3 linked regions of the Homo sapiens genome follow. The protein of the gene in region 1 purifies or fractionates together with the protein of each later gene. This does not show direct contact. Each region holds a gene or a part of one and is shown in the gene's direction. Other genes may lie near its edges.

Region 1 (3,752 bases):
CCTCTAAATTGGAGGCTCTGAATCAGGGATTCCTGAAAAGGCACAAGAGAGGCCCAAGCATGAACCTCTTGAAATTGTTTGCAAACTTCAGTCAGTGTTGTGTACATGTGCATGTGTGTGTGTTCCTGAGTGTCCATAGCTTTCATCAGATTCTTACAGGTAAATATCACCCGAGAGAATGGATAAGAACCACTGCTTTTTTTTTTTTTTGAGACAGAGTCTCACTCTGTCACCCAGGCTGGAATGCAGTGGCTCAGTCTTGGCTCACTGCAGCCTCTGGGTTCAAGTGATTCTTGTGCCTCAGCCTCCTGAGTAGCTGGGATTACAGGTTGCTCCACCATGCTGATTGATTTCTGTATTTTTAATAGAGATAGGGTTTTGCCATGTTGGCCAGGCTGGTCTTGAACTCCTGACTTCAAGTGATTCACCCGCTTGGGCCTCCCAAAGTGCTGGAATTATAGGCGTGAGCCATCACACCCAGCCAAGAACCACTGCTTTAAAGGGACATTGGTTGACTGTGCCTTCCTAAGGTAAAGGCCTTCTTGTTTTCTTCCAACTTAAACATTTTATCTGCTACACTCAATAACCATCGAGTATGTTTAAGAGAAAGTGCTTTATATAACAAAGCAGAAAGGCTCTTGATAATAACTTAGAGGCTTCATCCTTGCATTTTTCTCAAGATGAAAACGCTAACATAATGAGCTGTCAAGGTAGGTTCATCAATTGTAACAAATGGGCCACTCCAGTGGAGGATGTTGATCATGGGGGACGCTGTGCGTGCGTGGGGAGAGGGGATATATGACGTGTCCCTATACCTTCCGCTCAATTGTGCTGTGAACCTAAAACTGCTCTAAGAAATAAAGTCTATTAAAACAAGCAAACCAGCCAGCTGCAGTGGCTCACTCCTGTAATTCCAGCACTTTGGGAGGCCGAGGTGGGTAGATCGATTGAGCCCAGGAGTTTGTGAAACTCCCTCTCCACAAACAATTTTTGTAAAAATTAGCGGGGTGTGGTGGCACGTGCCTGTAGCCCCAGCTACTGGGGAGGCTGAGGTGGGAGGATTGTTTGAGCCTGGGAGGTTGTAGCTGCAATGAGCCATGATTACGCCACTGCACTCCAGCCTGGGTGACAGAGCAAGACCCTGTCTCAAAAAAAAAGTTAAACAACAACAAACCCAACAACCAACTAACCGAAACACTAAGAATCAGAGAAGTAAAATATAATTCGCTTCATCCAGACAGCTAGCCCGGTGAGGACTACAACCTTCCTCTCTTCCTTCTTCACTTCTTTGCTCTCTCTTTTTAAACCCACATCTTAGCAATTCCTCTGCTATTGGGTCATTAAATCGCCACCTCTAATTTTTTTTTCTAAGCATTTATTGAGGGCCAAGCACTGTGTTACACATCTCCTCATTAAAATGGTATAGCAACCTTTTCTGGTCGATATTATGATCCCATTTTTCAATTTTTACTTTTGAGTGAAGGACATTGATTCTTAGAGATTGTAAGGAACTTGCCCAAGGCTGCCGGCTGGTTAGTGGCAGAGCTGGGATGGGAAAGTCCGTATTTTCCACCGCGCTGTATTAGTGAGGGCTCTTTGTGTCACTTCTGTGCATAACTCCGCCCCAAGTTAAAAGGCTCGCTGCTCTCGACAGGTCCTCCTCCTCCTCCCGCTAGGTCCTCCTCCTCCTCCCGCCAGGTCCTCCTCCTCCTTCTCCTCCCGGGGCCCTGCCCTGCGGGTCTCACCTGCTGCTCCGCGGGGTCCCGGCGGGGGCCGGATAGCGCCCCCTGGCGGCAGGTGGGCGCCCGCGCAGCGCATGCTAATGAGCCCGCGGCGCCGCTCGCGGATTGGCTGGCGCGGATTCCAGCTGCTTTCCAAGTCAGCGGCGCCTAGTGAGAGTCAGGGGGGCCCGGCCCGCGCCCTCCCCGCCCAGCCGCCTCCCCGTCGACGCCCAGGGCTGGGGCGAGCCAGGCTGCCTTTCGAACTTGGGGGGCTTCTCCTCTTGTCTCCCACTGGTGCTCTGGCTGTGAATCCATCCAGGGGCCAGGATGACAATCCGACACCAAGGCCAGCAGTACAGGCCGAGGATGGCATTTCTCCAAAAGGTAACCCTGGCCCCTCACCTGGACCCTGGGAGGAGGGCGGGGGACCGCATCTGCGAAGCGTCCGAGGACAAGAGGGGCAGGAGTGGAGAGCACCCCTTTGGGTCGATTTGTGCTGCTCGATTTTATTAAGTGACTTCTTTGCTGTGTGTGTCGATATTGATGGCTATAATAATTAGGTTTTCGTGTGCCCTGCCTGTAGTGGAGAATCTGAAGCCAGCGCTGATGGTCTGCGGGAGGTGAAAACAACCTGTTACTCGGGAGAGGCAGGTTCAGTTCAGGCTGTGGCAGATTTGAGACAGCCTGCTGATATTGTTGTAAGACGACCAGATGTGACATTGCCATTTTTGCCTTTTTTTTCTGATCCCAAACTGCACTATTTTAAAGTGTGTGTGTGTGTACACATAGACCATGAAAACGGGGTGATTTGTAGGATAAAGGGCCACCCCATTTACAATGCCCTGAGAGCCCTCATTTGAGTGTGTCTATCTGTGCATCTCCTGCTGTCTGCGCTGGCGGCAGAAGTCCCAACCTTTTCGCTTCCCTTGCGAATGCTTTCCCAGACAAAGTGACCGGGCACAGGGTGTGCACACAGGATGGACATGTGGGAGGTGGAATGCACCTGTGGGGTGATGTGTTTGGGGACAAAGTGGTTCATTTAGTTCTGAGCTTCTGGTATAATCACTGTCCGATGAGATCTACAGAGGATTAGGTCCCGGGTCACATCTTTGTCCTTCCTCCCACCCGTAGCCACTTTTCACAGCGTAGTGTCCATCTTCTTAGGCTTATCTTGTTGAGTAGAATTAGTTGAATGTTTTGTGACAAGCTGAGCTCTCCCTGAGCCCCTGGAGCTCAGCAAATTTGTATAGTCAGTGACCGCTGTCCTGATTTGCCCAGGACTTTCAATGCTAAAACCTGGACAGTCCTGGGGACCCCGAGACGGTCGCATTTGGTCCACCTGTTTCAAGATGCTCGTGCTCATCTTCCGGGTAGCAGAGGTGTGGGTATCATCTGTAAAGCAGACAGGCTGAATGTTGTCTCACTCAGAAAGAACCCTGAGAGCCTGTATTGCAGATACCAGTTACTAAAAGCAGAAGAAACTGCCTAAGTCGGCTATCTCAAAGCCACACATCATCTTCCAGGATTTATCCTAGGACTGTCTCCTCCCAGGCAGGACAGCTCTGGCTTGGGGGCTCAGAGGGTAATTGTCAAGAGATAAATTCAGTTTGTTTATTGAATCTCTGGCATTCTTTTCCATCATGACTCTTCTCTGGTAGATTCTCCTCTCCTTACCTTGGTCTTCTGACTAGTGTCTTGGTCTCTAGTTTCTCTCCTCCACCCCAGGCTTCCCTCCTCCTCCCCAGCCACCCCTCCTCCACCCCAGCATCCCCTCCTCCACCCCAGCATCCCCTCCTCCACCCAAACTCTCCCTCCTCCACCTTAGTCTCCCTTCCTCCACCCTAACCTCTCCCTCCTCCATTCCAGCTCCCCTCCTCCACCCCAGCTCTCCCCCCTCCACCCCACCTTTCCCTCCTCCACCCCAGGTCCTCTTCCTCCACCCTGTCTTCCCCTTCCTCTACCCCATCCTCCTCCTCCTCCCCAGCCTTCTCCTCCTCCATCCTAACTTACCTCTCCTCTACCCTAACCTCC
Region 2 (3,752 bases), on another chromosome or scaffold:
GGAGGCACCTGTTTTCTTCTCTGGCTTGGACTTGCTACTCTAGCTCTATCTAAATATATAACATAGTGCAACATTCCAAGGAACACTGTCAACCTTGGTGGGTGATACTAATTTACAAATAAGTATGACACATTAGAGCCTTTGGGAAGGGGAGGAGAAGCCCAGGCACTTAGATGACACTTTATGTAAGAGGACTGGAAAGCCAGAATCTATTTTTGCTCTCAACAGTTTCCTGAGCATTGTAAACCAAAAAGTATCTGAGACACATCTCAGTCAATGTAGAAATTTATTTTGCCAAGATTAAGTACATGCCCATGACACAGCCTCAGGAGGTCCTGAGAACATGTGCCCAAGGTGGTCAGGCTACAACTTGGTTTTATACGTGTAGGAAGACATAAGACATTAATCGATACACATAAGATGTATATCGGTTTGGTCTGGAAAAGCGGGACAACTGGAAGCGGGGCTTCTAAGTCATAGGCAGATTCAAAGATTTTCTGATTGGCAGTTGCTTGAGTTATTATCTAAAGACCGGGAAGCAACAGAAAGAAATGTCTGGGTTATTATGATAGGGGGTTATGGAGACCAAGGTTTTATCATGTAGATGAAGCCTCCAGGTAGCAGACTTCAGCAAAAATAGATTATAAATGCTTCTTATCGGACGGAAGGAGTCTGTTTTATCAGTCTTAAGGTCTCTGTGTTGATGTTAACTCCAGTCAGCTTTGTCTAAATTCCAAAAGGGAGGAGGATATAATGAAGAATGTTCAACTGCCTCTTCCCAACATGGCCTGAACTAGCTTTTCAAGTTAACTTTGGAATGCAGTTGGCTGAGAGGAGGGGGCCATTCAGGTGGTTGGGGGGTTTACAATTTTATTTTTGGTTTACAGCATCTAGGCTCAGTAATCAGGAAAAACAAGCCCTCTTCTACGAATCAGTTCGATTGAGGTGGGGCACATTCTTCACTTTAGCTATCTCTTCATCTAACTTCTGCTTCTGTGCCCTTTGCCAAGCTTCCATCCCCTTTAAGGTTAGGACAGGGAAAGGAGGGAACTCCTTAGCCCCACTCTGGAAGGAAAGTGCAACTAGTCTTGGCGGAGCTTAGGTACGTAACAGTCACCAATGCCAACCATCTTGTTGCCCTTAGCTCCAGTCTGACCATGTCATAACACTGCCCCAGTTGGAAAATTCTAGATTATCCCCTCATAGTCCTTTGCCTCTGGGACCCACATTGACAAGTTCTGCTTCAACAGGATATTTCTACCCACCTTCTCTTTTGCTTTGCACTTTTTTAAATAACCCAACTCTTTAAACCAGATTAGATTTACTGGTTTATTTCTACCTCTACCTGTCATCATCCTAAAAATTTCAAACCAAAACTTATTAATTCAACAGCTGGCAGTCTTCTATGAATGCCCTTGTGTACAGAAATCTATAGAAAGTGCTGGGGAAAGACTCAATAGGAAATAGTTGAAACATGAAGAGACATGAAGTCAATGAATGAAGGTGTGATAATGATCCAATGTAAAGGAAAATAGTTAATAATAGCTATTTTAACTAAACGCTTCCTCTATGCTAGACAGTAAGCTACTCACCATAGCTAAATGTTTTTCATAGATTATTTCATGTAATCCTCACCTGGGCTAAGTTTTATTAAACTCTATTTTACAGACAGCTTAGCAAGCTTCAGTTACATGTTCAAAGTCACAGAACTGGCAAATAGCAGAGGCAGGTTTAGAAAAGAAGCCAACCTTACTCATAAGCATGGGTTCTTTCAAATAAGGTATATACGTTTCCCAACTGAAAGATTGCCTCTAAGCAGTTTCAATTCAATTTTAAGCAGTGGTTCTCAGCCTTGAACTCTTTTGCCTCCCACCCCAGGGAACATTTGGTCATAGCTGGGGATATACTTGGTTGCCACAAATTGTCATACAGTGCTACTGGCATCTGATGAATTGAGGGATGCTACTAAACATTCCACAGTGCTCAGGACAGTACCCCACAACCAAGAATCATCTGGTCCAAAATGCCAACAGTGCTGAGGTTGAGAAATCCTGATTAGGAGGATGGTGGATTTTTAAAGCCACTTCCTAAAAAGCAGGTTGTTGTGTCTATACCTCACTTATGTGCACATTATGTCCCATCACAGATGACAGCAGCCTTCTGAATCTAACTCCCTACCCCCTGGTGAGAAGACGGAAGAGAAGGTTCTTTGGGCTGTGTTGTCTCATCTCAAGCTAGGTGGCTCCTCCTGGAAACCCACTGAGAACATCTGAAAAAAAATCACAAAACCCGAGGACCTCCAGACAGCTGAACCACACAGTTATTGGTTTTTGACTATGTTTTCTATGCTTCCTTATTACTTTTATCTGCCTCCCCCTGCCCTTTTAAATGATTTTACACTTGAAAGCAGCTGCCGTCAAGAAAAAAAAGAACAGATTCAAAAACCAGGCTGTTTTTAAAAGGGAATTTTAAAGCTGACATTGTGCATGTCTGCTCCAAACCACGCCATGACAGATGCAAGAATTATGATTTTTAAATTATTTAAAGGTTTTTTAAATGTATTATACAGAGGAAAAATATTTCACATATAATAGTATATCTATAGCTCTTGCTGATCTCATGTTAAAATTTATCGTATATGAAAGAAGTCTTTAAACATAGAAATCTATTTAAAACTGAAAAACTGTGTTCAAAAATCCAATCTATCAATATCATTAGAAATAATATTATAAGCAAACATATACCACCTCACCTATTGCTTTCTCTGCACTCATTTACATTTAGTCTTCCATTCTGTCAGAATCTAAGAGCTTCAACATAAAAGTATCTTAATTTATAAAGCAACAAAAACCACATATGAAAAGTACTAAAATTTTGTAAATACACAATAATCCTAATACCTTCGTACAAATGCATATGGGCAACTAATTTCTTTTTGATCCAATGATGTCTTTTTCAGCTTCTTGGAGAATGAAGTAATCCAGTTAGGAAATGGTGTAGTAACATATACAATTGCCCTCAAATGTAAAATCAAATATTATTACATTTTGTTCTAATTGAAATCTGAAGCATGGTGTCTGCACATCAGCATAGTGTTAAATCTTATAGGGCATGCTGGAATTAGCTCAGATTATAAAAATATTTAACATTTTACATTGTTAATAAAGTTTTTTAGTTAAGCTAAGCTTGTCTCATTTTAGATGACTATGCAGATAAGATTTTTCCAACGTGTACTTGGTGTCTTGTCTTATGCTTAGACTCTTGAAAGCAGGACACATTAAGCAATACTATATTTTAGAAAGGAGGAAGCCACATGCTTTGTTTTTCTGCTCACAGCTTTGTTGTGATCTTCCTTCACTAAACTTGTAACATGGTACAAATTTTGTTATACCGTCTCCTGTTCTTCCTTTGGCCCATTTCCCAGACAGAATTTCCCATGGGTTGAGAGATCAAGTCTTTGCACTTTTTTTCTTGTTTTCCATAGTCTGAAAAACCTTCAAGTCAGACAGGAGGCACCAGTGTCCAGTACAATAGAAGGATGAGCTAGATGCCGATAAGTGGTTTATCCAAGACACATCTTTAGTCCCAACCCTGTTCTTTACCAATACTTATGTGCACAGGCATTTATATGTATACCAATATTTTTACCTAAAAACTAAATATATTAAGGCCTTTTGCTTTAGTGAAGATGAACTACTGTAATAATTATTGTATTAGGTTGAATTATATGAAATTTCCTATATGTGACTGTT
Region 3 (3,752 bases), on another chromosome or scaffold:
ATTTTTGTATTTTTAGTATTGACGGGTTTCACCATGTTGGCCCGGCTGGTCTCAAACTCCTGACCTCAGGTGATCTGCCTACCTAGGCCTCCCAAAGTGCTGGGATTACAGGCGTGAGCCACTGTGCCCAGTCTCTTCCCAGGTATTTATTAAGCACTTGTTATATACCAGTCAGTTGTCAGAGCACTTAACTACATACCAACTCTTTTAATTCCCACTTAGTACCTACTGCTATGGTGTGTAGCTACATCGCCTCCACTTTAGAGGTGAGGGAACTGAGGCTCAGGTTAAGTAACCCAACCAAGGACCTATCGCTAGTAAGAGGCAGCAGTGCAATTTGAACCTATGTAGCCTGACTAGAGAATTTGAACCAATGTAGTCTGACTAGAGATTGAGTACTCTAAATTCCTACCCCAAACTTCCTCTATGAAGACCTGGCAACACTAGACCACATTTCTGGAGCACAGTCATAGCTGCCCCCTTCAGAAGGGAGCAGAGTAGGCCATTTCACCTCATAGCAGCCATAATGTAGAGGGGCAGATGTGTGTATGGGATGATGGCAGGAATAGTGATGGGGACACAAGGACCCTATAACTCATAAGTAGAGAGGAAGACAATTTCCTCATCCACCACTGGAAGAAGACTTGTTACTCAGTAGTCATGTGTGCCCCGTGATGATTGTATTTGCTTATTGTGTTTACTGTATTCTGGACACTGTACTAAATACTTATATTCTCATTTAATGTTCACTTTAGTGTCACATACACAATAAATGCTAGTTAAGATGGTACGGTTGGGCTGTGCACAGCAGCTCAAACCTGTAATCCCAGCACTTTGGAAGGCCAAGGTGCGCAGATTGCTTGAGCCCAGGAGTTTGAGACCAGCCTGGGCAACATAGTGAGACCCTGTCTCTACTAAAAAGCACAAAAATGTAGCCAGGAGTAGTGGTGCACACCTGTAGTCCTAGCTACTGGTGAGGCTGATGTGGGAGTATCACTTGAGCCTGGGAGGTCAAGGCTGTAGTGCACCATGATCATGCCACTGTACTCCAGGCTGGGTGACAAGAGAGATCCTGTCTCCAGAAAAAAAAAAAAAAAGTTTGTGAGGTTGTGTTTTTGGAGATAAATGAAATTCTGTATTGTTATTATGTAATTGTATATTATTTAGTTCTTCTTAAATTACTGTGTTCTTTATGAAAAGCGTATGGTTTCCTTGGGAAGTAGTTTTGTCAGACATGTATAATTGCAGTATCTGTAAAGGTAAAATAAAAGAATAAAAGGTGGATCACAAAAATATGGTACTCTTTGTGTTTAGTAAGCCATGGAATTTTGAATGATTTTTTTTTGTTGTCGTTGTTAATTTACATTTACTATTTATTTATTTATTTAGAGACGGAGTTTTGCTCTTGTTGACCAGGCTGGAGTGCAGTGGCATGATCTTGGCTCACTGCAACCTCCGCCTCCCAGGTTCAAGCGATTCTCCTACCTCAGCCTCCCGAGTAGCTGGGATTACAGGTGCCGGCCACCATGCCCAGCTAATTTTTGTATTTTTAGTAGAGATGGGGTTTCGTCATGTTGGCCAGGCTGGTCTTGAACTCTTGACCTCTGGTGATCCACCTGCCTCAGCCTCCCAAAGTGCTGGGATTATAGGTGTGAGCCACTGTGCCCGGTCCATTTACTATTTATTAATAATACATTTCTCACACTGGACAAATTTTCTTTAAGTCATTTTACTGAAAGCAAAACTACTTCCTAAGGAAAACAAATACGTATTATAAAGAACGTAGTAATTTAAGAAGAACTAAATATACAACTATGTAATAACAATACAGAATCTCATGTATCCCCTCAAAACAACCTTAAAACTTTTTTGTTTTTTTTGTTTTTCTTTTTTGAGATGGAGTCTTGCTCTGTTGCTCAGGCTGGAGTGCAGTGGCGCGATCTTGGCAAGCTCCGCCTCCTGGGTTCACGTCATTCTCCTGCCTCAGCCTCCCCAGCAGCTGGGAATACAGGCGCACGCTGCCATGCCCAGCTAGTTTTTTGTATTTTTAGTAGAGATGGGGTTTCACCATGTTAGTCAGGATGGTCTTGATCTCCTGACCTTGTGATCCGCTCGCTTCGGCCTCCCAAAATGCTGGGATTACAGGCGTGAGCCACCACACCCGGCCACTAAAACAACCTTAAAATCTTAACTAGCATTTAAGTAATAAGTGCTTATTGTCAGTGGATGAAAAACTTTTTTATACTGGCCACTGTTTTTGGCAGATGTTGATGATTGCTTCTCTTACATGTGTTGCTGTTTTGTTTCCTCTTTAGGTACTTGATGAAGAAGCAGAAGTTTTTATAGTCAAAATGTGGAGATTATTGATATATGAAACAGAAGCCAAGAAAATTGGTCTTGTGAAGTAAAACTTTTTATATTTAGAGTTCCATTTCAGATTTCTTCTTTGCCACCCTTTTAAGGACTTTGAATTTTTCTTTGTCTTTGAAGACATTGTGAGATCTGTAATTTTTTTTTTTTGTAGAAAATGTGAATTTTTTGGTCCTCTAATTTGTTGTTGCCCTGTGTACTCCCTTGGTTGTAAAGTCATCTGAATCCTTGGTTCTCTTTATACTCACCAGGTACAAATTACTGGTATGTTTTATAAGCCGCAGCTACTGTACACAGCCTATCTGATATAATCTTGTTCTGCTGATTTGTTTCTTGTAAATATTAAAACGACTCCCCAATTATTTTGCAGAATTGCACTTAATATTGAAATGTACTGTATAGGAACCAACATGAACAATTTTAATTGAAAACACCAGTCATAAACTATTACCACCCCCACTCTCTTTTGATCAGAAATGGCAAGCCCTTGTGAAGGCATGGAGTTTAAAATTGGAATGCAAAAATTAGCAGACAATCCATTCCTACTGTATTTCTGTATGAATGTGTTTGTGAATGTATGTGTAAAAGTCTTTCTTTTCCCTAATTTGCTTTGGTGGGGTCCTTAAAACATTTCCCAACTAAAGAATAGAATTGTAAAGGAAAAGTGGTACTGTTCCAACCTGAAATGTCTGTTATAATTAGGTTATTAGTTTCCCAGAGCATGGTGTTCTCGTGTCGTGAGCAATGTGGTTTGCTAACTGGATGGGGTTTTCTTATTAATAAGATGGCTGCTTCAGCTTCTCTTTTAAAGGAATGTGGATCATAGTGATTTTTCCTTTTAATTTTATTGCTCAGAAATGAGGCATATCCTAAAAATCCTGGAGAGCTGTATTTAATGCATTTTTGCACTAATTGGTCCTTAGTTTAATTCTATTGTATCTGTTTATTTAACAAAAAATTCATCATACCAAAAAGTGTAAGTGAAAACCCCCTTTAAAACAAAACAAAAAAATGAAATAAAATTAGGCAAATTGACAGACAGTGAGAGTTTTACAAACATGATAGGTATTCTGCTCGGCAATTTGTAAGTTTACATGTTATTTAAGGATAAAGGTAAATCATTCAAGGCAGTTACCAACCACTAACTATTTGTTTTCATTTTTGTCTTGTAGAAGGTTTATATCTTGTTTTACCTTGGCTCATTAGTGTTTAAAAATGTACTGATGATGTGCTTAGAGAAATTCCTGGGGCTTTCTTCGTTGTAGATCAGAATTTCACCAGGGAGTAAAATTACCTGAAAACGTAAGAAGTTTTAAACAGCTTTTCACACAAATTAGATGCAACTGTTCCCATGTCTGAGTACTTATTTAAAAGAAAGGTAA

Evidence for each region.
Region 2: the proteins of RGS9 (region 1) and RGS7BP purify together in Homo sapiens (affinity purification with western blotting; 2 studies listed by BioGRID). This does not show direct contact.
Region 3: the proteins of RGS9 (region 1) and RBM25 purify together in Homo sapiens (affinity purification with mass spectrometry; 2 studies listed by BioGRID and IntAct, with this or other methods). This does not show direct contact.

What each region holds. Positions count from the first base shown.
Region 1 is NC_000017.11:65,135,493-65,139,244, forward strand, and holds the start of RGS9 (regulator of G-protein signaling 9), read left to right. Parts: upstream 1-1,877; 5' UTR 1,878-2,048; coding exon 2,049-2,105; intron 2,106-3,752. UniProt on the Homo sapiens protein: Inhibits signal transduction by increasing the GTPase activity of G protein alpha subunits thereby driving them into their inactive GDP-bound form. Binds to GNAT1. Involved in phototransduction; key element in the recovery phase of visual transduction.
Region 2 is NC_000005.10:64,607,015-64,610,766, forward strand, and holds part of RGS7BP (regulator of G-protein signaling 7-binding protein), read left to right. Parts: intron 1-2,146; coding exon 2,147-2,238; 3' UTR 2,239-3,752. UniProt on the Homo sapiens protein: Regulator of G protein-coupled receptor (GPCR) signaling. Regulatory subunit of the R7-Gbeta5 complexes that acts by controlling the subcellular location of the R7-Gbeta5 complexes.
Region 3 is NC_000014.9:73,117,398-73,121,149, forward strand, and holds part of RBM25 (RNA-binding protein 25), read left to right. Parts: intron 1-2,315; coding exon 2,316-2,408; 3' UTR 2,409-3,752. UniProt on the Homo sapiens protein: RNA-binding protein that acts as a regulator of alternative pre-mRNA splicing. Involved in apoptotic cell death through the regulation of the apoptotic factor BCL2L1 isoform expression.